Linked DNA regions of Homo sapiens: region 2 is linked to region 1. A link means that fine-mapping ties the variant in region 1 to the expression of a gene that starts in the linked region. Tissue or cell type: whole blood. Region 1 holds a variant in brackets; the other region holds the start of a gene. All regions are shown on one strand. Distances are from middle to middle.

Evidence for each region. PIP is the estimated chance that this variant, and not a neighbour inherited with it, causes the effect.
Region 2: it holds the start of GNAS, and the variant in region 1 is fine-mapped to the expression of GNAS in whole blood (TOPMed, PIP 0.97).

What each region holds. Positions count from the first base shown.
Region 1 is chr20:59,250,321-59,258,580 of GRCh38, reverse strand. ZNF831 (zinc finger protein 831) reads right to left here. Exons shown (of 6, transcript NM_178457.3): 5 at 5,443-5,603; 6 at 1-4,683. The coding sequence ends at 3,838. Among named protein-coding and RNA genes, the nearest start is that of EDN3, 46 kb to the left of the region's middle. The variant G/T (reference allele first, on the strand shown) is at 5,053.
Region 2 is chr20:58,887,388-58,895,387 of GRCh38, reverse strand. It overlaps GNAS (GNAS complex locus), which reads right to left and starts at 3,967. Exons shown (of 13, transcript NM_000516.7): 1 at 3,523-3,967. The coding sequence starts at 3,661. LOC101927932 (a long non-coding RNA gene) reads left to right here and starts at 6,578. Exons shown (of 5, transcript NR_126334.1): 1 at 6,578-6,614. RefSeq lists enhancers at 1-5, 6,630-6,849 and silencers at 2,810-2,899, 3,770-3,989, 4,000-4,499, 4,560-4,709, 5,910-6,189.

The sequences.
Region 1 (8,260 bases):
CAGGCAGGTCATATTCTCCTCACCATATTAAATTATGTCTGGGGAGTTGAGCAGCAGCACATTCCGATAATGATGACAGTTTCCATAACTATAAAGATCTGCTGCACCAGGCAAATTCTGTGCAAAATGCAAATTTCTGTGCTGGGGAAAAAAATGAATAATGTGATCATTCTAAGTAATGAATGTAAATGCAAGGAAATACTTTTTGGCATGAGACTGCAAATTGTTTATCTTTCATGCCAAGAACTGTGGTCACAGTGCACTTCTGCAAGGTTCCTCTTCCGGTCTCAGCTTTAGAAGAGTGATTTCAGGAAGAAAAAGTCTGTCTTGCCCTAGGTTACCCACCATGCTATTGGCAGTGTTTCCATTAAAATTCAGAGACACCCTCCTCCATCTTTTTTTTTAATCACTTGGCAAATGAACCATAGGTTCTCCTGGTTACTGTGAGATGTGAACCAAAGGGGATTATTAGCTTTGTCTCAAATCTCAAGGGTTAAGCCTAACAGGAGAGATGAGCTGTTTTTCAATGTGTTTTACAAGAAGGAGGATTCCAGTTGTCCACCAAAAATCACATGACTTTGAGTCACTTAACAATGTAGGTTGCCAAGGAGGGAAGGATTGAAACCTCTTCCCTCCATACATCTTTAACGACAAGATCTAGCTGGGTGTAGGTACAGGTGGAGAGAGAAACCTGGTGAGTCTTGAACATCATGGGGAAATGTCACTTTTGATATTGGCAAAAAAAAATTCAGTGCCCTTCCCTTAGTTCATGACAGCATCCCTCTAACTATTCTCTGTGGAAGAAACTGAGGCATCAGTTGGTTAAGACCCTTACCTAAAGATATAATAAAATTAACACTGGGAAAATTAGCACTGGGGAAAGAAGGAAATCCCTGATCTTTAAACTCTGGTTTGCTTTGTTCTAAAATAAATTTGTTTTTCCTTAACCATCATGCAGTACACACTTGCAGAGTATAAAACTGTGGTAGTTATCAATTGATAATACTGACATTTTATTTTTAGTAACCCAAACTGGGTTCTAGGTTGTTAATGTTACCCTTAAAATGTATTCTTATAATTGTATTTCACTTTAAGAAAACCCATAGGAAAATTAAGATTTATAAAATCAGAGATTGTTCATTGCTTTATAAAAAGATTCTTCATTTAAAAAAAATCTTTACCTTAGGATGCTTTTAAAGAGCCAGCTCCCTTAGGGTCATTCAAAATACATTTTTAATTTTTAAAAAATCCATTGACATACAGCTTTTTCACAAATTCATGTTGATATAAAGTAAGGTACACTTGTAAACATTGCCAGCCACTAGGCAAAGACCAGGGAAGCAAGGTGGCTTCGCTACCTGCTTTACCTTTGTAAGAGATACAGGGAGTTAGAGACGAAATCAATATTCCGCCATATTTGACCTAGGTTGGGATGTGACAGCTGGCAACGGTGGCTCCTATAGGGACAGAGCTTCCACCATCATCCTGAAGTTGGTGCTGTTTGGAGCTATGACTTACTGATTTACAGCCAGTGACCCCGTTGATTCCACAGTAGCCACCCAGAAAGGAGGGGTCTGGAAGACAGCTTTTTTCCCCTGACCAGTGCCTCCTAAGACAAAGGAGCCAGTTCAGCCTACAGATAGGTTTTCTCCATTCCTACTGGAGAGTTCTGGTTTTGCTTTTAATTTTTTGAACTATGAGCCACATGTATAGGCTGGATGATTGCACCCTAAAATCTGGAACTCTGGGGAAAAAATTAGATGGAGCTTCTTCAGGCTCAGGTTCTTCACAGCAATAATTGGTGGAAGGTGCTTGTGTTTCAGTTCCTCACTGTCCCCACCCAAACTTCTTGCATGCAAGGCCTCCGTGGCAATGGTTCCCCATGGGGAATATCTTCAAGCCATTGAGTCCATGCATTTTAAGGAGAGAGCAGCTTCTCTATCAACCATTCTCAGAAAAATTGGAACCTGGAGATACATTCGTCTTGTCCAACTCTCTTATTCTCACTTAGGGAAACTAAGGTACAGAAAGACTCTTAACCAAGATTTCCCAGCTAAAGTCAGGACTTCAATCTCCATCCAAGGCTCAGACCATTTGCCTACACTGCCTCTCTCATTACAGTGGCATGAATCCTTCGAAAAGGGAGATAATCACCACATCGCTTTTGTTGGGTTTAAAAAGTACACTAAGTCAATGTCCAACATCCTTTTTACCTCCCTTCTTATGTTTTTCTTGGCTGGGCCTGAAATCCTTGGATATTTATGAGTGCATATGAAATGGTCACAAATATATGCTAAGTAACCAGGGAAGCTGGTCTGGCATTGAAGTTTTCTATGAAAAACACCAAAATTGGAAAATTCACATGAAGATACTTGAAATTTGACCATACTTAGTCACAGGCACAGACTGACTGAAGTGTATTCACATGTGTGAGATGCTCTGCATTGCTGCTGTGTCTCTGAAGTACAAGATGTCATATGAACATCATTACATCAAAGTTACACCAAAAGAGCTCAGCTACAAATTTCAAATTGTACAAAATCATACCAAAAGCAAGTATAAAATTTTATTGAAATGCAGCAATGTAAACCTCTTTAAGTTTCTCCTCTCCCGTGGAAGGAGAGGGAGAGGAAGGCAGTGGAACTGAGGCTTTGCCCCCCGGGCTGGCTGACGTAGATCTGTTTTCTTCTGCACAGGGGCGCACCGGCTTGGAATACTGGGGAATTTTCTCTGTGCAGTTCTGACGTGCACAATACAGAGGCTGATTTAATTTGACAGCAAAGTAACACTAAGCCCCGAAAATAAAATTACCGAGATGTAAAACAGCGTCAAAACTCCAATTAGTTTTGTATCCTTGAAGCTTCTGAAGGAAATCTAAAAGGCTCCCGTCACGACGAGCAGGCATCAGTTGAAGCTGTACAGATTACTAAAATGTAACCCTCTAATTGAAATTGCTCAGAGCACAATATGACAAGAAGAATCAGAGGAAAATAAGTGAATTTTTCCCTCTCAAAAAATGACTCATTACAGAGAGACAGTTCTATTAACTTTTAACACCGTTCCTTTGCAAGAACTAGAAAAACCGACAGTCTCAGAGATCTCCACAGCAAACGCACCAGGCACAAGAGCATGTGCTTGCATCATCTGACCATAAATAAGCATTGACCATTTGTGCAACATTTAAAAGTAATCAGCATGTCACCGGATCATAGGCATTTTGAAGTGTATTTACAACTCCACCAAGGACGTGAATTACTCTGAACAAGCTTCAGTTTTTTAATGTATCTGAATTTTGTCTCCAAAATGAACAGAAGTATCTTTGTGCCCAGTTCACACCCCCGTCTCTTTGTCAAGCTACTCCAATTATCCCAAGTGTGCTCTCCACCTTGGAAGCAAATCCTCAGTTTACTAATGGAGAAAGCCAGTTGCCTCGACTGTGTGGGGTCCACTTGTGGAGAAATGTGTTGATGGTGGCTTTCTTGGTTAGTGCCATTTGATTGCAGAGAGGCAGTGGGGGACAGGTGCAGAAGACGAGGCTGGGAGTCAAGGCCCAGTCACTGTGCACGTTGACCATTTGCAGAGTTTGCTTCCTTGCCATGTCTGCCCTGCCTGGCACCATTTGAAGATGAGCAGAGCACTCCCAAGGGGAGCTGGGGAACGCTGCGGCTGAGTTGGGGGTCAGAAGTTGGTTGGAGTTGGCTTGTAAATAACTCAAAATGGCTTTCCTAATCTGTAGGTGTTTCACAGATAGAGTTTAGTTCTTCCGCCAGCCTGACAACATTTACTTGTGAAGCGTCAACAGTCTTTTTGACCAGACACCATGTTTCTCTGGAAGCTTCATATTTCTATAACTAATCGGTCTTCATCGTCGCTGCTGGTGTCACTGAACTCTACTCGAGTTTGCTTTCTCATTCCTTCCAGACTCCTCTTCTTGAGGGATTTAGAAGGGGCTTCAGGAATTTCTATGGGCTGCTCTGGCTTAGAAGGAACCACAGAATCTTTCCGAGTGATTAATCCAGATACCTGACGTTTCCTACCGTCACTTCCTAAAGAGGGGCAGGGGACAGTCATTTCCCCACACCCATACTGGCCTCTGGAAGGAAAAAACGTCTTGTGTCTCCCTTCCTTGTGGTGTGAACTAGCTGAACTTGGTCCTGAAGCTGGTATTTCAAGATGAGTTTTTTCAGTTGACTCCAGTGGAACCGAATCTGAAATTCTTTGTCCAGATGAAGGTCTCCCTGGCAAGAGGGTCTGTGCTCTGCCCTCTTCTGTGACTTTGCTGTCTGGGGAGCTTGATGTCAGAGTCCTCCCTGCAGTCTGGCTGTGGTCTCGTGATTCAGCACTGTGAATTTCCTGGGCTATGTGATCTGTTCTCACTGGCAGAGAAATACAAACGGCAGCCACAGAGGTAGCAATGTCATGGTGGGGAAAAGTTCCTTTGGACCCAAAGGAAGAAGGCCTTTGAGCATCTGAGAAGATGTATGGTTTGGGATCTGTTGAGACTGAATCCTGGGAGGCCAGCAGCTGAGTCTCCAGCAACCCAAGGTCAAGACCTTTGCCAGGGGGTAGAGGCACGTCATTAACCACTGCCAGGCAGGTGTCAGATTGCAGAGATAATCCTGATGTGGCAGCAGTGCTGTGAGTAGTACAGTCACCATGCTCACCAGCAGATGGAGAAATATCCTGCAACAAAGTGCAAAGGAAAAAAAAAGTGGGGGGGGAGGTTAATTGGTACAAAGAAAAATGTGGTCAGAAACGTGGTCCTCAATGAAAACAGGTCTTGAGGTCTTAATGATTCTTTACCAAGGGTGAACTTCAATATGACGCCCTCAATAAGTTTCCATTAATAACTAATTGGTGCATTAACTCGAATAAAGCTCCTGATTGATACAAAATAGGTTGCTGACGTCCTGTGCTTTTATCTGGCTTTGTGAAAAACAAAACCACTCAATTATCTTACCAGTTCTCAGCTTCCTTTTTTAAGTCACTACCGCTCATGAAGCGGATGTACTATTTTATAGGACTGTGTATTGAAGGGTTTTTTGGTTTTTT[G/T]GTTTTTTCCGGATGAGTGTTTTTCCAAATGTGGTCTGGATACATATTTTAGTGGTTTTCAACACGCAGCCCCACAGTCTGTCTGGGGGGGCTTCATGTTGCAGTGGCATCTGTCAGCCATCTCTCTATTCAGGTGTGCAGTAATAACATACTTGGGGTTTTTTTTAAAGAAACCATCAGAAATCATCCCAATGTTTGCACTACCAAAGCTACTCATTCGATACAGAATGTTTTGAGTTATTTGTTTGTCTTAATGGGCTTTCTGTGCCACGAATCTTCATAAGGTGATCCGAGCAAGTTCTGCCACACTGAACAAGAGCAGCAAGAACAAGCAGGGCTATACATCTAGACCAGGAATAGGTAGAGGCAGCTCAAAATCATCATGCCCACCTTCACAGTTCGTTTGTCCATTTCCCTGACAATTCTTGAACTTGTACCAAGAGAGAGGGTTCCTAAGGTTTGTCTGCAGTCACCTTCCTTCTTCTCTTCCTTCCCACAACAAGGAGGTGATTCTGAGGTGGCACAAGATGGCTCCTCTTGCAGATTCAGACCTGCAAGGGGAGAGGCACATTTACATATGACTGGAATTATAAAATTAGCAAAGAGTAATTTCCTGGGAGGTTGTCCATGACTTCTTGATCGCCTCTGAGCTCATTAACCCTCATCTCACAGGGTGTGTGCAAGAACTCAATTTATCTCCAACCAATTCACATTTGGTCAAATAAAATATATCCACTCTATGAAGGAAGGAAATGGCAAAACCAATTCTCAAAGTAGAAAAACCCCTGAATGATACATATCATAAAATATATCTATATTTCATGTTGCTTCTTCTCATCAGAGTTGTATTCCTGGTCATGTCTGTTTAGGTAAATTTTAGATCAGCTTGAATTCTCTGACATACTACCAAGTAGTCAGAATAGACGTTTCACTCGATGCATGGTGGGAACCCAGAAATATAAACCAGGTCTTAATTCCCACTAGAGTGCTGGGCAGCAAGGGATGAGGTTGGCTTTTGTGATGCTGTTGTTTTGTTGTGGTGGTTATTGTTGTGATTGTGGAAGGAAAGAAGGGCCCTGACAATATCCACAAAACAGCACTTCTCATACCTGTCTTTCCTTCATCCTTCACCCGCACTGATGACCTGGCATACCAGTCAAAAGGATCACAAAATTTCAGAGAGGGCAGGTTCCATCATGATATGAGATCAGAGAAATATCTTAAAACGACTGTGTCACTAGAGAAGAAGCACTAGACCCACTTTTAAATTTGCTTTTATTTTGATGAAAGGTACACATGTGCAGTCTGAAAAGTCAAGCCTAACTGTGTATTAAGAAAAACTGCAACCCCTGCCAACCCATCCATCTTTTCCCATTCGGGAGTCTTTTGACTTTTAGCTCCTTCATGTCTGATAACATTGTTATAGAACTACATTTTGTGGAAGTAGTAGCTGTGACTTCTCATGGGGAGAGAGGAGGGTTTCCCTCTTCTTCCAGCTCTCCTCCTCTTCAAACTTCATGACCCCCCACACAAGCACACATTCCACCTCTCTATCTTCTCAACAGTTCTCTAACCCCTATGGCCTGTTTTCATTTAGGCGAATATTCCATGTTTATATTAGTATGTTTAGGAGAATACCTGTCAGCACTGAATCTTGTAGTATACTACGATTACGTTGCCTTTCTTGTGAAAACTGCTTTCCCTGGGATTAATGACGATTTTGCTTTTTAAAAATTTTGCTGAGTTTTCTATGGACTCATTTCTAAAATCATTTTCCAACCACCTCTCCAATTGTCTGAGGTTTCATTTCATTCTGTGAGAAATGTTTCCTTGAAACTTTCTGATTTGCTCCAAGTGGACCATGTTTCTCTGCAGCATGGCTGTGCCCCTGGGGTCTCCCTTCATCCCCGCTGTGCTGATTCTCTTCGCCTCTTTCCTGGTTCCTGAACCTCTACAACTTCTTTTTTCTTGGTTTACACTCCTGCTTTCCTAACACAAAACTTCTAGTAGTTTCATGAGAAAGGGTACATGAAGTATAACTCTTTAGATGTCATTGGCAGCTTGGCTGGGTATGACATTCAAAATCGGAAATCATTTCCCTTTGGGGTTGCAGACACGGCTCTATTGCGTTCCAGTTGTTGAAAAGTCTGGAGACAATATGATTTATGATTCATGGTCCTTTGGATGAAATCTTTTTGTATGTCGTTCTCTGGAATCCCCGAGGCTCTTCTTTATTTCTGGTGTCACCACAGCCTGGGTCGATCTTCATTCATTGGCTGGGCACTCAATCAATTCTTTCAATCTGAATCATGTCCTCAGGTTTTAGAAAAATGTGGTTCTGTTTTTCTTTTTTCCTTTTCCTTCCTCATGTACAATGCATTGTTTTGAAATATACACACATTGTAGGTTGGCTAAATTAGATTATTAATAACATATGTATTAGCCCATAGGCTTATCTTTTTTTGGCAAGAACACTTATACTCTCAGCAATTTTTAAGAATACAAAACATTGTCATTAACTATAGTTACCATGTTGTACAATATAACTCTTGAACTTACCTGTTATTTCTGATTTTTTTTCCCTTCTGTTTTGTCTTCTCTCTCTTTCTAGAATTGCCCTTATTGGGTTATTGGATCTCCTAGTATAATCTTCTATTTTTCTTATCTTTTCGCTGTGATGTTCTGTTTCTTGGTCTTTTTGCTTCACTTTTGGGGGAATTTCCTCAACTTTATATTCCAATGAGTTTCTATTTCTGCTATTATGCTTTTAATTTCTAAGAGTTCTTTCCCATGTTCTTTTTTTATAGCATCCTGTTCTTACTTCATAGCTCTAACATCCTCTCTTTTACCCCCGGCAATGTTAATAATGGGTTGTTGTTGTTGTCGTTGTTGAAGTTTGCCTCCCCCTACATAGTCCCTCTTCCAAGTTCCTTTGTTTCCATTGGTTTGTTTTTATTTCTCTCTTTAGGTTGGTGGCTTTCCTGAGAAATACAGCAATCTTCGCTGCTTATGTTTAGGAAATGGGCACAAAAAAGCTGACTTGGTGTTCTTTACAAGTGCAATCTGTCAACCATGGGCCCTACTGTTAGGTTATGTGGTTGCCCTGTTTCAGTGGGAACCCTGAAGTAGTTATCTGCAGGTCTCCACGTGTACTGGTCAGCTTCTACAAGAAGAGTCCTCGGGTCTCCTGACTGGAAAATAGAAGCCA
Region 2 (8,000 bases), 360 kb after region 1:
AATTTAAGGTTTGCTGGTTTTAATTTTTCTTTTGATTGTTTAAAAAATTGTGGGGTGGTGTTGGAAAGGGGCAAAGAGAAGGAATGACGCAATTTTGTCATTTGTGGGGTAAACAAGAAAATTGAAGTTAAAACTGTGAAACTGAATCCCTGATACATGAACATTCACACATAAACATATCTAGACACATAATTTGTTGTCAGATGTTTCATGGTTAAAATACCCGGGATTCCCAACAATGCCCAGACACTGCAGTCTCTTCCACATCACGTAGCGATGCAGCACTTTCCTCCTCAACATTTTCACAACGCAGCTTCTTTCTGTGCAGGTTTCCTACCCCTTGGGCTACTTAAAAATCCACCCCTAAAACTGCATTACATTTTATCCACTTATCCATCCTCCTCTTTCCTCACAAACTATATCTTTCTAAAGATAAATTCCCTCTGGGTACAACTATGTTGCTGAGGAAAAGGGGAGACCATCAATTATCTGTCATCTTCTGGAAAAACCACACTTTAACATCAAATACAGTTCCTGAGACCCTATTAGCATTAGGTAAACTGCAAAAACAACAGTAAAAAGTAACATAAGAACAAAACTTTAATCAAAAGGAAAACTATCCCTGGGAAGTACTGAATTTGAAAGATTCCAAGCCCTTCCCAACTCAAAGAGTAGAAACACATGCCTCCATTTTAAATCATCTTTCATTTGTAAAAATACATATATGTTTCATGGAAAAAACACATTTCCATCAAGCTAGAGGGAGGATTGCTATTTTGCATCTTTTTTGCAATGCACATTCTCCAACAGATAATCCACGTGTGAAGTTTTTTTGCCCTCCTTCCACACAAATCTGTTATTACCTTTTTCTTTCTTTTTAACTTTTAATTGTATTGTTTTGTTTTAATGCCCAGATAGCACAGCATTCCTCCTTTACTTGCCTTTTCACAAGCCCGTAATCAATATCTGTAAAAGTTAAAATTAGTTTCCACAGAAACATTGATTTCAAAGCAAACACTATCTTAATGAGCCTAACTCTGGTAAATTAAAAATATAAATGGCACTATTAAGAGAGGCCAAGGAAACAATACGTAATATTTAGCAGGATCTCTAATATTCTAATTTCAGAAGTGTTAAACTGTGTAACAGTTACAGGACCTATCTTTCATAGGCAAAAACAGATCCGTGCCTCAGTTTCCACATTTATGAAATGTGGCTGAAAAATTATTTTAAGATCATTGTAGTTCTCTAATTCACTTAATTTTTATGTCATTAAGATGGAGTAAAAAGAGGATTTGGGGCATTATTAGGTTTCCTCTTTTGTGGGGAGGCATTATTTGGTGAGAATCACCATTTAAAAATGCAAAATATTGTGTCACTGGCTTAAGCTGCAGATTCCTAGGCCAGAGGCAATCAATACATCATGATGTAATGTAGTCATATAGACTAGGACACTTAGATTAGCCCCCGTGACGCAAGGCGTGTTCTGAGTAACAGTCTCAAATTAAGTGGAGACTTTGTGATCACTGCACAAAAGGTGTTGGAAATTTTAAGATATCATTAGCATCACACTTGACTTAAAGTAGTACTGAGATAGCATTCACAGAAAAGATTCTAGACTTTTCCAGATTTATACTTTGAAATCAAGTTATACGCATACTAATATCCCAACAGCATAATTCTGCCTTTAAAAGTTTTAGACAAGACAGCAACACATGTACCATTTAATTACTGAAATTGCAAATGCATAAACACCAAAGACACTTATTTTGACTTAATTAGTAATTTTCTGCTTTTATAAATCTGGACCCAGGAGAACAAAGTCATGACCTATGCAAAAAGAGCAAACCAAAAGCCACCAAAGGAAAATAAATAAGAACAGCCTTTTATTATTTTCTTTATACTCAAGCTGTTTTGTTGAAATGTGACCACGAACTAGGTCTTAACCTAGCAAATTCACAAATTTATTCAGATAGCCAAATTATCAAGGAAGTGGAAAACTTCCATTTTTAATTAATGCTGTGTAATTCTTTTGGTCATTTCATTACATTTTTTTCCCCCAAAACAGCACCTTAAGAAAAAAAAGGAGGAAAGGCCATCTCCTTATAGTTAACCTTTTTTTATTTTATTATTATTTTTTTAATCAGAGGAAAAATCGCAATCAAAAAAAGAAAACCCAAAACCAAACAACTAAATGTCACTTGATAAACAACTAATTAATGTCTTTTTATCTCTTCCCACCTGGAGGAAAAGTCTCCTTAGAGCACTCTCAATCCCCCCTCCCACCTTGAGGAGGACAAAAAAAAAAAAAAAAAAAAAAAGAAACCACGCCATTTCCAGACCAAGAAGCCATTTACAGACAAATGTCATTCTCCAGTTTTATCTGATTTGTGAATGTCTTTGTTTTTTCTTTTCACAAAGCACTCTCAATGTGGCCAGCCAGCAGGAAAATGTGTTTTTTTTAATGGTTTATTAAAATAGTGTTGGGGGGGCGCTGCTCGTGGTGGGTGGGGGGGGCAGCTGCTACAATTAATTCTCCGCTCTGCTTTTGAAAAAGCCTGCAAGTCTGGAAGGGGAAAAAAAGGTCACACTGTAAAATGACGTGTCATTTGGCTTCACTGGGCACTTCTCGTACTAACTCTATCCATTTTTTGGTGTTGGGGGGTGGTCTTATTTTATTTGACTCTCCTTCTCCTCCTTCCACGGCCCGGCCTGGCCCGGGACACGTCTGCTCCGCGCACACACAGTCAGTCGGTCCTGCCCGAAACGCACCAAGTCGCGCCCAGCGGCAACCGCCCTCCCTCCTCCCCTCGCCGCCCCCCTCCCGACTCCGGCGCCACGACTCCCTTGCGCCCCCTCCCCCCCACTGCACCACCTTTACCGCTCCGATCCTTTCCGAGGGGCTGATGTCACCAGCCCCCCCACTCTCCTCGGCCACTTCTCCCCGCCAAAGCCTCCCTTTGGCGAGGCCCCCTCCGCCACCACGGCGCCCCCCAGCGTCACCCCCTCCTCTCCTCGCCCCTTTCTTCCCCTCTTTCCCTCTCCCAACAAATCTCACACCCCACGGAGGCGGGTCCCCCTCCCTCTACCCGCCACCCGGTTTCCTGTCCCCGAAACCCTCTTTTTGTCGCAGTCTCCGGAGCCCCATGGGCTCCCCCTCCCCCTCCCCAACACGCACCCAAACCCCTGGCGTCGTGTAGGCCTCGCGGAAAAAGAGAGAAAGAGAGAAAGAGGGGGAGAGCGAGAGCGAGAGCAAGAGAGAGACACTGAGCGGGCAGGCCGGGGGAGGGGGACCCGCGCCCGCGTCGCCACGGCCCCCCGCCCCGTTTTTGAGCCCCCGCCCGGCCGAATCCGCGCCCCTGGGTCCCCCTTCCGGCCTCGCCCCCCACAGACAGAGCCCGCGAACGGGCGGGGGGCTCGGGAGCGCGCGCCCGGGGCGGGGGGCGGGCTCGGCGCGCGCGGCCTGCGGGGCGCCCTTCGAGGGCCCCCGGGCCGGGGCCGGCGCCCCCCGCCCGCCCTTACCCAGCAGCAGCAGGCGGTGCGTGGCCCGGTAGACCTGCTTGTCCTTCTGCAGCTGCTTCTCGATCTTTTTGTTGGCCTCACGCTGCGCCTTCTCCTCGTTGCGCTGGTCCTCGGTCTTACTGTTCCCGAGGCAGCCCATGGCGGCGGCGGCGGCGGCGGGGCGCGGCCGGGCTGCGGCGGCGGCGGGCGCGGGCGGCCTCACGCGGGCCGGGAGGGCCGGGGCAGCGCCGGGCGGGCGGGCCGGGCGCGGGCTCGGCTCCTCGGCAAGGAGCGCGCGGGGCGGACTGCGGGCCGCGGGCCGCGGGGCGCGCGGACGGGCGGGAAGGGGAGGGTGTCGGTCGGACCGAGGGGCGCGCGCAGCTCCCCGCCCCTCGAGCCGAGGCCGAGGGGGCTGATGGCCGCCGCCGGGCCGAGGCGGACCAGAGCAGGAGCTGCGGGAGCTGCTGCCGCCGCTGCCGCCGCCGCCGCTCTTATTGCCTCGGCCGGGCCCCCGCCGCCGCCCCGAGCCAAAAGCGCCGCGGCGGGCGGGGGGAGGCGGGGGGAGGAGGAGGCGGCGGCGGCGAGGGGGGTGGAAGGAGGAGGAGGAGGAGGAGGGCCGAGGAGCGGCCGCGGCGGCGGCGGCGGCTGGGAGGGCGGGAGCCGGCGGAGGGAGGCGGCCCCCCGGGAGCCCGGGGAGGGGGTCCCTCCGCCCGCGCCCGGCCGGGGACGGGACGGGCCGGGGAGACGCCCCCCACCCCCCGGGCTCGGGCAGCAGCCCGGCTGAGCCGAGGGGGGAGAGGGGGCGTCTCCGCGCCAGTGACGACCCCTCGCACGACGCCAACGCTCCACCCCCCGGACCGCGTCGCCCGGCGCCCCCGAGGCCTCCTCCCCCTCCCGCGGGCGCCGCCGAGGGGCTGGGGTGGGCGGAAGGGGAGGGAGCGCGCGCCCGGACTTAGGAAAATTTTCGAAAGAGCGAGAGACACAGAGAGCCAGAGAGCAGGAGTGTGGAAAAAGCGAGGCGAGCACGAACCAAAGGACAGAGCAACCGAAAAGGAAAATGTGTCCACACACACACACGAACACGAATAAAAACCCACACTACACAGCGATGGTGGTGTCTGGTGGCGGTGGCGGGGTGGGGGGTCTGACTAGATGAGCCGCTCCTCGCGCCCCCGGCGCCGGGCGCCATGGCCCGAGCCGAAGGCGCCTCTGGCCCCGGAGCGCCCGCGGCCTCTGCGCTTGGCGCGGCCGCCCAAGTAGGAGAAGAAGGCGCAGCCCAGGAACACTCGGAAGCAGCAGGTCGCCCCGAACACGAAGCCGCAGCCGCGGCCCTGCTCCGTGCGCTTCTGCAGCAGGAAGTTGAGCACCCACGAGGGGCTGCGCACCGAGAAGACCAGGAACACCACGAGGGGCAGGTGGGCGCTCAGCGCGCCAGCCTTGAGCGGCCCGGGCCGCCACACGATGCCCCCAACGCGCGGCGCCGCGTAGTAGGCGTCGTCCTCGTCGCTCGAGTCCGTGTCCCAGTCAGCCCAGGCCCTACTCGTGCCCCCGGCGGCGGCGCCCTCCTCGGCGCCCCCGACGGCGCCCTCCTCGGCGCCCTCGTCGTCGTCGGCGGCGGCCGCGGCGGCGGCGGCCTCGGGGCATCGGGCCTCCTCCTGGGCTTCTGGCACCTTCTTCTTCTTCTTCTTCAGCATCTTCTCCATCTTCTTCCTCTCCTTCTCCTTCTTCTTCTCCTCCTTTCGCCTCTGCTCCAGCAGCTTCTTCTCGAGCTTCTTGCGCTCCTTGTCTGTTAGGAACTTTTCGGGGAGCGCCTCCCGCGCCGGGTTCTTGGGGTTCTTCGCGAGCTTCTCGGGGTCCCCGCTCTTCCGCGGCGCGAGCGGCTCTCTCGGCTCGGCCAACGCCGCAGCCGCCGCCGCAGCTTCGGCAGCCACCTCGGCAGCCGCCGCGGCCGTCTTCTTCTCGCTCTCCGCCGCCCGGGCTTTGAGCTTCATGGCCATCTTCAGCATGGTGGCCCGGCCACCTCGGGGAGCTCGGCTCGCGCCTGGCCCGGGCTCCCTGCTTGCCCCCGGCCTCGGGCTGCCCGGCCCCCGTGCGCCCCGTGTCGGGGGGCTTGGCTGCGGTTCCCGCCGCGCTGCCCCGGGGCCGCGGAGCGCGGCTGCCCGGGCTTCGGGCTGCTGGGCTGGCTGCCTAAGAGTTAGCGCCAAAAAGGATGAGCAAACGAAAAAGGGACAAGAACAAACCAAAAAGCACCCAACAACAGCGAGAAACCAAAAAGCACCAAGAAATGTCAACTCAAAAAGAAAAGTGCAAAGGCGCGGATGGCAGGAGTCTGTTTACCCTCAGGCGCTCCTTGGTTTGGCTCTTGGGCACGCCAATGGAGAAGAGAAAAGAGAGAGAATTGGGGGGTGCCCGGAGGCGCCCCGGGGCAAGGCAGCGGCGCCCGGGCGCCCCTGCCTTGTCCCGGACCCGGCGGCTCTTGCCTGCGCCGGGCGACTCGCACTTCCGCGGGAGGCCCCGGCGCTCCCCGACTTACATGTGAGTGAGGTGCACTCACACGCAAGGCAGCGCCTGCCGGCCGCCCGCCGCCGCCCCGCGCCGGGACAGGGGCTCGCTCCAGCCGCCGCGCCGCAGCCCGGAGCCAGAGAGCAGGGGAGCGCCGCGCCGGCCAGCCACCTGACGCAGCCCGCTCCGCGGTGCCGACGCGACTGAGTGTCCCCGCCGGGGAGCAGAGCTTCTAACCGGCCCCGATGACGCCCCAGCCTCTTCAGAGGACCGACCCATAGCAGCGGCCCCTATAAACCGAAGGGGAAGCGCGAAAAATCGGCCCACCGGGGACGCACCCAAATGGGCCGCCGCGCACCCTGGGGGTGCAGGCCGGTGCCGGGACCGCGCGGGCGTGGGCCGGGGGCGCGGGGGCCGCGATGGCGGGGGGCGCGGGCGCGCCCAAGGCGGTGGGCGCTCAACCCCGCCTCCCAGACCTGCCTCCCAATTTTCGGTGAGTGGTGTAGCCCTGGGCGGCGTGCAAAGTGTGCGACGGCGGCGCTTACCCCTGCTGTGCGCCTCCTTACCTCCAGCCACCCACCCCGCCCTCCCAGCGGCGCGCGCCCGCCGAGGTAGGTGTCAGAGAGCCGAATTCGAATTATTTGCGACGCCCGGACGGAGTTTCGTATCTTCGGACGAGAAAAGTGCGATGGGAGTGCAAAGCCTCCCCTGCTCGAAGCAGCAGGCGCGCCGGTGTCACGGGAGCCGAGGAGCGGTGGCCGTGGCTGTGGAGTCGGTGCTCGAGGCGTCCTCCCAGGTGGGAGAGGTGGCGGCCTTGCCTGGGCGCCCTGGGGGCTCTGGAACAGAGGGAAAAGTAGTTTACGGAACGTGAACTTGTTTGAGGGTTCTTTCAAAACTCTCAAGTGTCCCGCCGCACACTAGGATATAGCAGTGCACGGGATTAGGAGCAGGGTTACTAAATTTTCAAGCAGTTGACCCCAGCCCGCCTTTCCTGGGACCTTGGTTAGGTCATCTGCTGCCACCATGGTGTCTGCTGGGATACGGTTTATTCATTCAATAAATGTTTGGTGCCTGCCAGTTCCGCGGCTCACCATGTGCCCAGGTGAGCCGAGGCGGCCAGGTAATCAGGCTAAGACGTGAGCAGTGTCTTGGATGGGACACAGGCCTACGTCCCGGAAAGCCCAGATATGCAAAGTCCACAAACTGTCTTCCAACTTTTTCTTTGACTTCTTAACAGAGCCCATGAAACTTAAGATGTTTGATGGAGAAGGAGAAAAAAGAAAAGTCTACCTATAAATGGAAACACATTTAACAGTCCCCAGGGGTATGGGGCGGCTGATACCACCAGAGGCCTTGAGCAAACTTGTATCATTTTAAGTTAGCTTTGAAAATAAAAAGACACTGTTAGCCATTCAACCGGATGACTGAAATTCCCCCCTTTTCCCCAGTTTGCTCCACTTCGAGTAAGAAAAGGTGTGACAGATGAAGATGCCACATATTATTTTTCTTGGCCCCTTCAGGTACACTGCTGCCCCCATTGTACAAGGCCTCTTTTTTATGAATCTGAAAAGACAACAGAGGGCGATTCAAAGTCACCAAACAACACTTGGAATTAAGAACAGGAAGCGCAGCCTAGACACCGTCCTGCCCTGGGCTGCTGCAGACCCCTGACTTTCTTGAACTTGGCTGAAAAGTTGGGGCCAGGTTTTTGTCACACTCCTGATCATGGATGGCCTCTCTTCCACACAAAAATACACCTTATTTTGAAAATGCTCAAAGGAACTATCCTAGGTTGATGCTTTTCACCTAACCAAAGATGCATAAAAATATTGTGCAGATACACCTGAATGTGCTCATAGGAGAACTCAGCAGTAAGGCCTCAGAATCGATGATTCCTAGGCTGCCTGTACTAGTGATAGTGAGGCTCACTACCATCCACCACCTAAATTAGAACCGCTTGATGACACAGCACAGGTTCTATATCTTTAGATGGTAAA